3 linked regions of the Homo sapiens genome follow. Changing the gene in region 1 together with any one later gene gives a genetic interaction. Each region holds a gene or a part of one and is shown on either strand. Other genes may lie near its edges.

The links.
Region 2: changes in THOC1 (region 1) and MED4 together harm fitness more than expected from each alone (negative genetic interaction), as found in Homo sapiens cells (one large-scale study listed by BioGRID).
Region 3: changes in THOC1 (region 1) and RTF1 together harm fitness less than expected from each alone (positive genetic interaction), as found in Homo sapiens cells (one large-scale study listed by BioGRID).

Annotation. Positions count from the first base shown.
Region 1 is NC_000018.10:216,022-219,675, forward strand, and holds part of THOC1 (THO complex subunit 1), read right to left. Parts: intron 2,949-3,654; coding exon 2,865-2,948; intron 613-2,864; coding exon 465-612; intron 1-464. UniProt on the Homo sapiens protein: Component of the THO subcomplex of the TREX complex which is thought to couple mRNA transcription, processing and nuclear export, and which specifically associates with spliced mRNA and not with unspliced pre-mRNA.
Region 2 is NC_000013.11:48,088,590-48,092,243, forward strand, and holds part of MED4 (mediator of RNA polymerase II transcription subunit 4), read right to left. Parts: intron 1,830-3,654; coding exon 1,763-1,829; intron 1-1,762. UniProt on the Homo sapiens protein: Component of the Mediator complex, a coactivator involved in the regulated transcription of nearly all RNA polymerase II-dependent genes.
Region 3 is NC_000015.10:41,420,050-41,423,703, forward strand, and holds part of RTF1 (RNA polymerase-associated protein RTF1 homolog), read left to right. Parts: intron 1-3,654. UniProt on the Homo sapiens protein: Component of the PAF1 complex (PAF1C) which has multiple functions during transcription by RNA polymerase II and is implicated in regulation of development and maintenance of embryonic stem cell pluripotency.

The sequences.
Region 1 (3,654 bases):
CGGCTCACTGCAACCTCCGCCTCCCAGGTTCAAGCAATTCCCTTGCCTCAGCCTCTTGAGTAGCTGGGACTACAGGCACGTGCCACCACACCTGGCTAATTTTTTATATTTTAGTAGAGACGGGGTTTCACCATATTGGCCAGGATGGTCTCAATCTCTTGACCTCATGATCCACCCGCCTCGGCCTCCCAAAGTGCTGGGATTACAGTCGTGAGCCACCGCACCCACAGCCCTGTTGAACTTTAAATTACATGCTGTACAGAAAATTATCAGTTACTTCTTTATCAACTCATGTATTTCCTGTAAATGTATATTCCAATGTGTTTTTCCCTCATTCTAAAACATGGGAGCTTGTGGATCACTGGTTTTTCACATGATTAAGTCAGTTTTTTGCTCACATAGTGACAGCAATTTTAAAGAAGATGTCAACTAAAGGGTATGAAAAGTTGATCTATGGTACTTACCGGTAATTCCTTGGCTAGCTTTATTACCATATTTTCAAGATATTCTGGTAAACTTTTAAACTGCTGGTTGGTTGGCTGGAAGAAGTGAGGGCTTCTCCGTGCTAATAGTCTCAGGGCTCTCCAACCATAATTTGAATTGTTCACAGCCCTATAAAAAGAGGTGTCAGGCTTGTAATTTATAGCTTTGTATTTCTGTATTCCCTTCTGCTCAGTTCTGCCATGTGTAATTCTGTATTTAAGGTAAATAGCTCAAAGTGCCATTCTTTGTATTTGAATCTTATTCCTAAAGAACTTTTCAGTATGTAGTCCACTGATAATAACAAACCAATAGATGCACATGTAACTAATCACAGGAACCAACAATGCCTGAAGAGGCAGGCTCATATGCAGCAAACACATTTTCAAAGTTTCCGTTCATTTTGTTTAATTTTAACAAGTCAACAAGTGTGTGCAGTACTGGCTGGATGCAGTACGTATACAACAGGAATCATCCATCTAGCTATTTGGAATCCATGAACTGTTCCCTAATGAAGTATAACAATGATCAGGGTGGTATACCATCAGGTGAGAAACAAACTGCAGAGAAATTCTAAAGATAATGCGTCAGAAATATGCAATGCTGCGGAAGAAACCAAACCACAAATTTATTCCATTTAAGAGTTTTGGATTGGAAGTCTCTTCCTCCCCTAAGAATAGCAATTTGGTTTATTTGGTCACCTCTTATAAATAAGCATATGTTACCTTTAGGATGTGCAGGTACCACTGAAGACTTAACAAAAACTACCCATAGACACTGGGGACTCTTCCCAAGTTAACACCTGCTGTGAGGCTTTGCCTAAACAGTTAAGAGCCTTCCTCTCTGACATATCTGTTTAGACAATTTGATTATTTTAGGCATTTTCAAAATTCACTGTCAATTATACACATCATTTTTCTTATTCTCCACAAAACCCTCTTTGGAGATAATAATTTGAACTATCACTTTAGGAATGAGTCCACCTAGTCTTATGTAACAGTGATAAATTAATATTCTTTCAATCGACAAACACTTTTGAGCCAGGCACTCAGTAGCTGTGGAGAGTACCTGAGGCACAGTAAGGCAGGCATTGCTAGTGATAAACACACAAGGTATAAGACAATTTCATAAGGATGAGGAAAACTTGAGAAATGAGAAAGTGGTAAGTGCCACCTTCTCATTTGGATAGTGGTAAGTGCCGTGAAATAAAAACCACGAGAATGCAAAAGAGGAGACCAGGGAGGGGAAGAGCTTCCCAGCCAGGGGGACTTTAAGCCACGGCAACCTTGGGGAAAAAGTGGTTCAAGCAAGTGAGACAGTAAAGTGTGAAGGTCCTGACAGGAAAGGGAAAGACAGGACCAAGAGGCCTGCTGTGGTTAAAGCAGAGGGGAGGCATGGCCACACAGGAGAGTATGAGCCAGACCAAGGAGGTCTTTTAGGCCCTGGGAAGGAGTTTGGAATAGGCACTCACTGGGAGATTTTAAGCAGATTAGACTTGGACAATTATTTTAAAGATCACTGGCTGATGCATGGAGCACTGACCACAACTAGAGAGATTAGTTAAGAGGTCACAGTAATTAACAACTCTGGTCACAGGGTCACACTAGTCACAAATACTGAGTGCTAACCACATGCCCTGTAGGGTTCAAAGTGCACTGTCTTATTTAATCCTCAGAATAACCCTGTGAAATGGGTACTGTTACTATTTAACAGATGAGGAAAGGGAACTGGCGGTTTAATAATTAAATTAGCCTTAGTTGCCTAGTAAGTAAGTGGTAGAGGGAATCGAACCTATGCATTCTGACCAGAGGCCTCTTGCCTTTAAACCACTACTCTTCAATTCCTATTTAAAGCCATGAGACTGCGGTGTCACCCAGAAGGTTCTAGATAAAGAGGCTAAGACCAATTCCTGATGTTACTCCAAAATTTGAGTTAGGCAGAGGATGAGGAGGCTGAAATGGAATGTGAGGTGGAGTGGGCAACGAGGGCAAAGGGCAAACAGAAGAACCATGGATTTGGATTCTCATGGACGCCAAGAGAAGAAAACATTAAGGGGAACAGGATAGGTTAACAGCTGCTGTGAGATACTGTGCTTTGAAGGGTAGAGAGAACAGAACTAATAGTTGGAGAGAAATGGGGATCAGGGGGAGTTTTTTTTTTCTTATATTTTGAAACAAGGGTGATTCCAAGTCATGCTTAGTTAACAGGAATAATCCTTGAAATCAGGATGTGTACTAACAAGAACTTGGAACATAAACTCACCTAAGAGAAAAAGCACTATTCTATCTACTGCCTCTCTTAAGAGGCTTTCTAGTATACACACAATTCCTAAGGAAGAAACAAATTGAAGAAAATTAAAAGGAGCTAATGAGGAGCATACTTACTTATATTCATTTTCCACCATATTTTCAGGGTCTGCCTGTTCAATGGCTTCTTCAAAGAATTCCTCCAAAGTGGGCATGTGTTCCCTGAGCGGTACAAAAATAACCAGTGAGGATGGCATATATTCTTAATAATAAATACTCATGAAGTGGTGGCAGGACAAGATTGTGGGCATGTGTTCCCTGAGCAGTACAAAAATAACCAGTGAGGATGGCATATACTCTTAATAATAAATACTCATAAAGTGGTGGCAGGACAAGATTGTGGGCATGTGTTCCCTGAGCGGTACAAAATAACCAGTGAGGATGGCATATACTCTTAATAATAAATACTCATAAAGTGGTGGCAGGACAAGATTGTGGGCATGTGTTCCCTGAGCGGTACAAAATAACCAGTGAGGATGGCATATACTCTTAATAATAAATACTCATAAAGTGGTGGCAGGACAAGATTGTGGGCATGTGTTCCCTGAGCGGTACAAAATAACCAGTGAGGATGGCATATACTCTTAATAATAAATACTCATAAAGTGGTGGCAGGACAAGATTGTGGGCATGTGTTCCCTGAGCGGTACAAAATAACCAGTGAGGATGGCATATACTCTTAATAATAAATACTCATAAAGTGGTGGCAGGACAAGATTCTAATGGCCCCATACTTTTAGTTACAGTTTTGATTACGTGGGAACTCCAGACTTTTAAGGAAGTAAAACCGTCAAAACTAAATTCAAAAAGGACAATAAATAAAGGGGATAGTCTAATACTAAATATTACATAGTATTTACTACATATA
Region 2 (3,654 bases), on another chromosome or scaffold:
AGTTTACACAGGTTGAATTAATTTGTATACTACCCATGAGTAAAAAATATTCTCTTTAGATCTTATTGTTCAGTAGAAAAAAATTATTCAACTAAAGTCAGAAGACCTAGGTTCTGGTTCCACTCACCATTAACCTCTACCTCATCCGTCCACCCTGGAGCTTATTCTCACAGGAGGTTGAACTGAACATCGTTAAGATCCTTTCTAATTCTAAAATTCTATATAAAATTATAAATATCCAAATAAAATGGTGGCTAGAAAATTTTCAAATGGGCACATCCCTCTCTAATAGTAACAGTTTCAATGAAAATTACATAGGAATCCACAGTACTAAGACACAATTCACAAATTGCTACTCTTTAAAAAGTGCAAGAAAGATCAGTGCTGATTATAGGTCTTAATTATCACCTTCTGAATAATCTGTGTGCCTGGCTCATAGCAAGCATTTAATAAGTGTCTATCAAATAAAGTCAAGCCTTGCATTTTACTTCTTGCATACTTTGTATAAATTCCTATTTAATCCCACGGGTATTAACAGAGTACCTGAGAGACTAGTAGTCTTCTATTAACATATTTATCTCTAGCCTCTTTCTTTTTTGAAAAAAAACAAAACAAAAACCTTACTACCCCTAAGGTTAGCTGTTTCTCCTAGCTTGTGGCCTCATCTGGATCCCCTCCTCCCCTTTTGAGGCTCACTGACACTTTTCTATTGAGTCCGTCAGATTTCCCTGCCCTCAAAACGTAAGACAGAACTAAGGTAATGATGCAGACAAAAGATTTATTACTGTCTCCTCTTCTCCTTTACATCATCTTTAGAAAGGTTAATCCTCTCCATTCATTTTCTCTTAAACATTTTTTTTGGCCAGCTATGGTGGCTCATGCCTATAGTCCCAGCACTTTGGTAGGCCAAGGTGGGGAGGATCCCTTGAGGACAGGAGTTCAAGACAGTTCAAGACTGACCTGGGCTACACAGTGAGACTATGTCTCTACCAAAAAAAAAAATTTCTTTTAAATTAGCAAGGCATTATAGCGCATGCCTATAGTCCCAGATACTGGTGAGGATAAGTGGGAGATCGCTTCAGTCCAGCAGGTTGAGGCTGCAGTGAGCAGTCATCATGCCACTGCACTCTAGCCTGGGCTACAGAGCGAGAACTTGTCTCAAAAAAGAAAAAACTGTGCCAAAAACATAATATAAAATTTATCCTCTTACCTCTAAAAAAATTCTGAATCAGGAAAAAAAGTCTGTTCACCCACCATGGAAAATTAGAAAGCACCGAAAAGTGAGCAAATAAAAACTGCCCGTACTTTCACCCCTATAAGGCAATGTCTAATAAGAGTTGTATGCTCTTTTATTTCCCTGCATGTTCAAGTTGCATTAGGGAACTATACTTACAATACACGGTAAGTTTTTGAGCATTAACTTTTGATTCTAAATATTGTTGTAATCTCCATACAACAAGCCTTTCTTGGTTAATTCAAAGGACAAAAATAAATAAACATGTAAGTGTGACTAGAATTGTAAGAGAAAATAACAAAATACTGCTAAACCCTCAGGCAACTATTCTTCTTAAGCGCACTGTTATCTTAAGTAAATGATACAAAGAAAATACCAATATTAAAGTTTTAATTAATAACTTAAAAGGATCCAACATTCCTGTTCCCACACAAAGTAAATATAAAGAGGAAACTTGCAGAAATCAAGTTTTTTTCTTTTAATTAAAAAACAAAGAGAAATTAACTAATTTAAAAAGAAGCCACTTACCTGGTTTTCCTCTCCAGCCTGTAACAACTTTTGGTTTCTTGAAATTGCCAGCATTTCTATAAGTTCCCTAAAAAAAAAAAACCAACAACAACAAAAACCCTTTCACAGCATACTGAACACTCAGGGCTACTCCCTACAGTCCGCTATTGACTGTGAACTACAGCTCACCAAGACTCGCTTGTGCCGGTTACCAAACTTATTTATAAAAGTTCTACTTAATACTATCATTATATAAATAGCTATCACCTAAATGCCAATGAAAGACTATTGTGAATAGAGAGAGTTCTTTCTATAAAAACCTAAGCCTAATGCTTGGAAAGACTCTACAGAGGCTTGCAAAGGACAGCTATAAAGAAAGGACCAGGGAAAAGTCATAAAAACTAAGGGTCTGCCCTAAGACTGCTTGATAAGAGGATAAGTTCTCATTTTGATTTGATCTAGAAATCAAACTACAAATTGCAGACAATGCATTATGAGCGATTTATGCAAGAAAAACTCATACATCAGGGGTCTACAGGCCAAATCCAGCACTTCTGCAGTTTTTGTAAATAACATTTTCCTAAGACAGTCTGCCCATTAATATACAAATTGTCTATGGCAGTTTTCCCTAAATACAGAGGCAGAGTTGAGTTGTTACAGCAGAGACTATATGGCCCATAAACCCAAAAGTATTTATTATCTGGCCTTTGCAGAAAAAGTTTTCTGACTCCTGTCTTACATAACATGATTAGTGAATGAACATATGTTTATATATTTTAAGGTAAAATAAAACAATTAAGGGATGCATGGACCATTTTTTAATGATTCTCCACTTTATTTGAATTTTTTAAATTAAACATCAACTAAGAGGGATCCTTACACATAATAAAATGATATCCTTTTAGAATGCTCATTTAATAAATATGACAATTTCCCTGTATGAAAATTAGTATCTGATGAGCAAAATAAGATTGGGAAAAATGTATAGCAGGTAATGTTTATATATTAGTTTCAAACTTGTTGATAGATGGGACTTTTGAGAAATTATGCAGAAGGGGCAGCTTCACAACTAGCTACCTGACACTGCTCTGATCAGCCTGAGCATTTGTACTTTCTCACTGGCTACCAGGCTATTTTTACCTTCAAATTTCCACCTTCCTTCCAGCTAGCATCATATCATTTTTCTGGATCATGTCAATTAGACCCAACCCTTCCCACTACTACTTCCCCATACCATTATTTATGAATTAATCAATGAATGAAAAAAGTAGATATAAGAATGCAAAGTCTTCATTTATTCACTAATTCATCAAATATTTATTGAGTGCCTATCATGTGCCAGGCACTTTCTAGATACTTGGGGTATCAAAGTGAACAATGGCACTTAAATTCTAATACAAGAGACAAGAAGAACTAAGAGAAGAAATAAACCTAGAGTGATAAGGGTTGGGAAGGAAATAAAGCAATGTTTTATTAGAGACTACTGGGGGAGTGGGTTGGCTACTTCAATAGGGTGGTCAGAGAAGGTCTTCCTAAGGGCACAGCTTTGACATAAGACACGGATTAAATGAGAGAAGTCAGCCAAGATGTCTGGAAGGAAAGAGCACAGTAGAAGACACAGACAGTTCAGTGCCCCAAAGATGGAGCTGAGGAGGTGTAGCCAGGGCCTGGCACAATGGGGAGAGGAAAGCAAAGTGAGGATGTAGCAGCCAGGTGGCTAGGGGTGAGATTACGTAGGGCCTTATAGTTATGGTAAAGATTAGTGTTTCATTCTTTTTTTATTTTTTATTTTTTGAGATGGAGTTTTGCTCTTGTTGCCCAGGCTGGAGTGCAATGGCGCGATCTCGGCTCACCCCAACCTCCACCTCCCGGGTTCAAAGAATTCTCCTGCCTCAGCCTCCCTAGCAGCTGGG
Region 3 (3,654 bases), on another chromosome or scaffold:
ACCTCAAGTGATATGCCCACCTCGGCCTCCCAAAGTGCTGGGATTACAGGCATGAGCCACCGTGCTTGGCCGGAATTGCAATTTTAAATCCAATTCTAAATATCTATTTGTAAAAGGAAATTAACATAAAATGTGTAATACCTAATACATTTTAACAACAAATTTAACTTCCTCCCCTTCAGCTTCTTATTTGCATTCTTGTTATCAGATGGGAACTAGATCAAAATTCCCTTTCCCTGCACATCCTAACAGGGGTATTGATGCCTTCAGTTTGTCTGTTCAGCACTATGCCAGACTCTCAGAATAATCAAAGAGGAAGATCTCTGCCCTCTAGACATTTTCACGAAAGACCTTTAGCACAAGTTCACTGTCAGTGCTGCTTGGGGGTCTTTAGGAATCCTAATGCATTCTGGATCTTTCCTGCCCCAAATACCTTGTGCTGCTCCATCTGGTTCTGAGTCTTCACTGGGGGTATAACATTAGACTTGCTGTCTAGCGTATGGTACTTGTGGAAGGAACAAACCATGACAGATCACTGAGTATCTAGTGTGGATTGGAATGCAGTTCGTAAGGAGGCCTTTTGTCCCTGGGTTTTTCAGATGGGAATCTGAGCCATTATGTCAAAAATTTTACCTCCAATTTATTCCTTACTGAAGGTGAGATATATGGGCCTTCTAGGCTGGTTTTTCCTGGTGGTAGGGGCAGACCTCTGTGTCAGAAGCCACCTGGGTTGCTTATTTAAAATGTAGGTTGGGACTTAGAGGGTGCAGCAGTTCCCATCCTAGACCTACTGAATCAGACTCTCAGGGGATAGAGGTCTGGACTCTGCATTTGTAACAGGTATAGCTCAAGTAATTATGATTTATGTTAGTGATTAAGATCACTGCCTATATGCAGGTTAATCTTTTTAGTAACACACTATAAGTATTTAGAAGAGAAATAGCTTCCTGTGTCTGCCATAGTACTTCCAAATTAAGCGTACATGTATAGGCTGGGCATGGTGGCTCATGCCCTGTAATCTCAGCACTTTGGGAGGCCAAAGTGGGAGGAACACTTGAGCCCAGGTGTTTGAGATCAGCGTAGGCAACAAAGTGAGACCTCATCTGTACAAAGACTTTAAAAATTGGCCAGGTGCAGTGGCTCATACCTGTAATCCCAGCACTTTGGGAGGCCGAGGTGGGCGGATCACCTGAGGTTGGGAGTTTGAGACCAGCCTGACCAACATGGAGAAACCTCGTCTCTACTAAAAATACAAAATTAGCCAGGCATGGTGGTGCTTGCCTGTAATCCCAGTTACTCAGAAGGCTGAGGCAGGAGAATCACTTGAACCCAGGAGGTGGAGGCTGTGGTGAGCCGAGATCGTGCCATTGCACTCCAGCCTGGGAAACAAGAGTGAAACTCTGTATTAAAAAAAAAAAAAAAAGAATTTAAAAATTAGCTGGGCATGGTGGCGTGCCTCTAGTCTCAGCTACTTGGGAGTCTGGGGTGGGAGGATTGCTTGAGCCTGGGAGGTTGAAGTTGCAGTTACTTGTGGTCCCACCGTTTCTCTTCAGCCCAGGTAACAGAGTGAGACCCTGTCCCAAAGAAAAAAAAAAAAAAGGCACTTGTATAACTAAAAGAACTTGACAGGGAGGTTTTAAGATGGCAAAACTACTGGTTCTTTTTTTTTTTTTTTTTAGGCAGGGTTTCACTCCTGTCACCCAGGCTGGAGTGCAGTGGCACAATTACAGCTCACGGCTGTAGCGTTGACCTCCCTAGCTCAGTGATCCTTCCCCCTCAGCCTCTCAAGTAGCTGGGACTACAGGTGTGCACCACCACACCCAGCTAATTTTTAAAATCATTTGTAGAGATGGGGGTCCCACTACATTGCCTAGGCTAGTCTGAAACTCCTGGGCTTGGGTGATTCTCAGGCTTTGGCCTCCCAAAGTGCTGGAATTACAGGTGTGAGCTGCCACACCAGGCCTTATTTATTTATTTGTTTGTTTGTTTATTTATTTATTTTTGAGATGGAGTCTCACTCTATCGCCCAGACTGGAGTACAATAGCACGATCTCGACTCACTGCACCTTCCACCTCCTGGGTTCAAGCAATTCTCCTGCCTCAGCCTCCTGGGTAGCTGAGATTACAGGCGCCTGCCACCACACCTGGCTAATTTTTTGTATTTTCAGTAGAGACGCTATGTTGGCCAGACTGGTCTCTAACTCCTGGCCTCAGGTGATCCAGCACCTGGCCTTATTTTAACCTTTGAAAGTTTTTAAAACTAAGACCTAGTTTGAGAGTTTGAAAGCTTTTCTTTTAGCATTTGACCTGATAGTGACTCTGTCCTTATTTTGACCACACCCTTTCTTCAACATTTTTAAATTTCAAGATACTTGCTGTTGGTGCCTATTGGGAAATAATAATTTGAGGCAAACCTCTGGGCTCTATGTCATCTCCCTTTATGGAATAATATTTATGCAGTAAGTCCTATAAAATGAAAAGCATTCAAGATAATAAAGGAACCAGAGTTCTCAATTCAAATCAGTACAACTCCGTATTTATAAAAATTTTACTCTACCTTTCTAAAAAACTAAAAATTGAGCTATGTGCACACTGGGATGCTTTATTTTATAGGTTTCTTATTTAAAATGGAGATTATATTGTCATGTCCTGTTTTTCTCTGTTTATCTAACTTGAAGTAGCAATAATTAAATTTGTCTTTGAGAGAATAGGCCCCCCTAAGTATTTTCTTTTTTCTTTTTTTTGAGACGGAGTCTCGCTCTGTCACCCAGGCTGGAGTGCAGTGGCGCGATCTTGGCTCCTGCAGCCTCCGCCTCCCGGGTTCAAACAATTCTCTGCCTCAGCCTTCCGAGTAGCTTGGATTACAGGCGCACGCCACCACGTCCAGCTAATTTTTGTATTTTTAGTAGAGACGGGGTTTCACCATCTTGGCCAGGCTGGTCTTGAACTCCTGACCTCGTGATCCACCCTCCTCGGCCTCCCAAAGTGTTGGGATTACAGGCGTGAACCACCGTGCCCGGCCAGCCCTGTAAGTATTTTCTAGGAGCTGTTTTTAGATACTACATGTAAAGAATATTATTATTATAAAGTATACTTCTATAAACCTTCCCCATAAATCTTGAGAAATTTAAAAGTTGTGCTTCTTGTTAATGTAGTGTTTTCCGCATTAATCAGAGGCAAATTTTGAAGTGTAGGAAGAGTTTGTGAGAAGTGTCAGTGTTAATTTGTGAAAACTTTAATTTGTGTCATGTTGCATCTAGCTTGATGTAATTCGCTTGTTAATTTCACTCTTTTCAAAGAGTGAGTCCCATGGGAGCTCCCTCCCCACCCAGCCCCCACCCAAGATGGAGTCTTGCTCTGTCACCCAGGCTGGAGAGCAATGGCACGCTGGGCTCACTGTAGCCTCCGCCTCTAGGTTCAAGTGATTCTCCTGCCTTAGCCTCCCGAGTAGCTGGGATGACAGGCACGCGCCACCACTCCCGGCTAATTTTACATTTTTATTAGAGATGGGGTTTCTCCATGTTGGTCAGTCTGGTCTCAAACTCCCGACCTCAGATGATCCACCCACCTCGGCCTCCCAAAGTGCTGGGATTACAGGGGTGAGCCACCACGCCCAGCCCTGGGAGCTTTAACAGTGAGGCTTTTAGGAAAAAT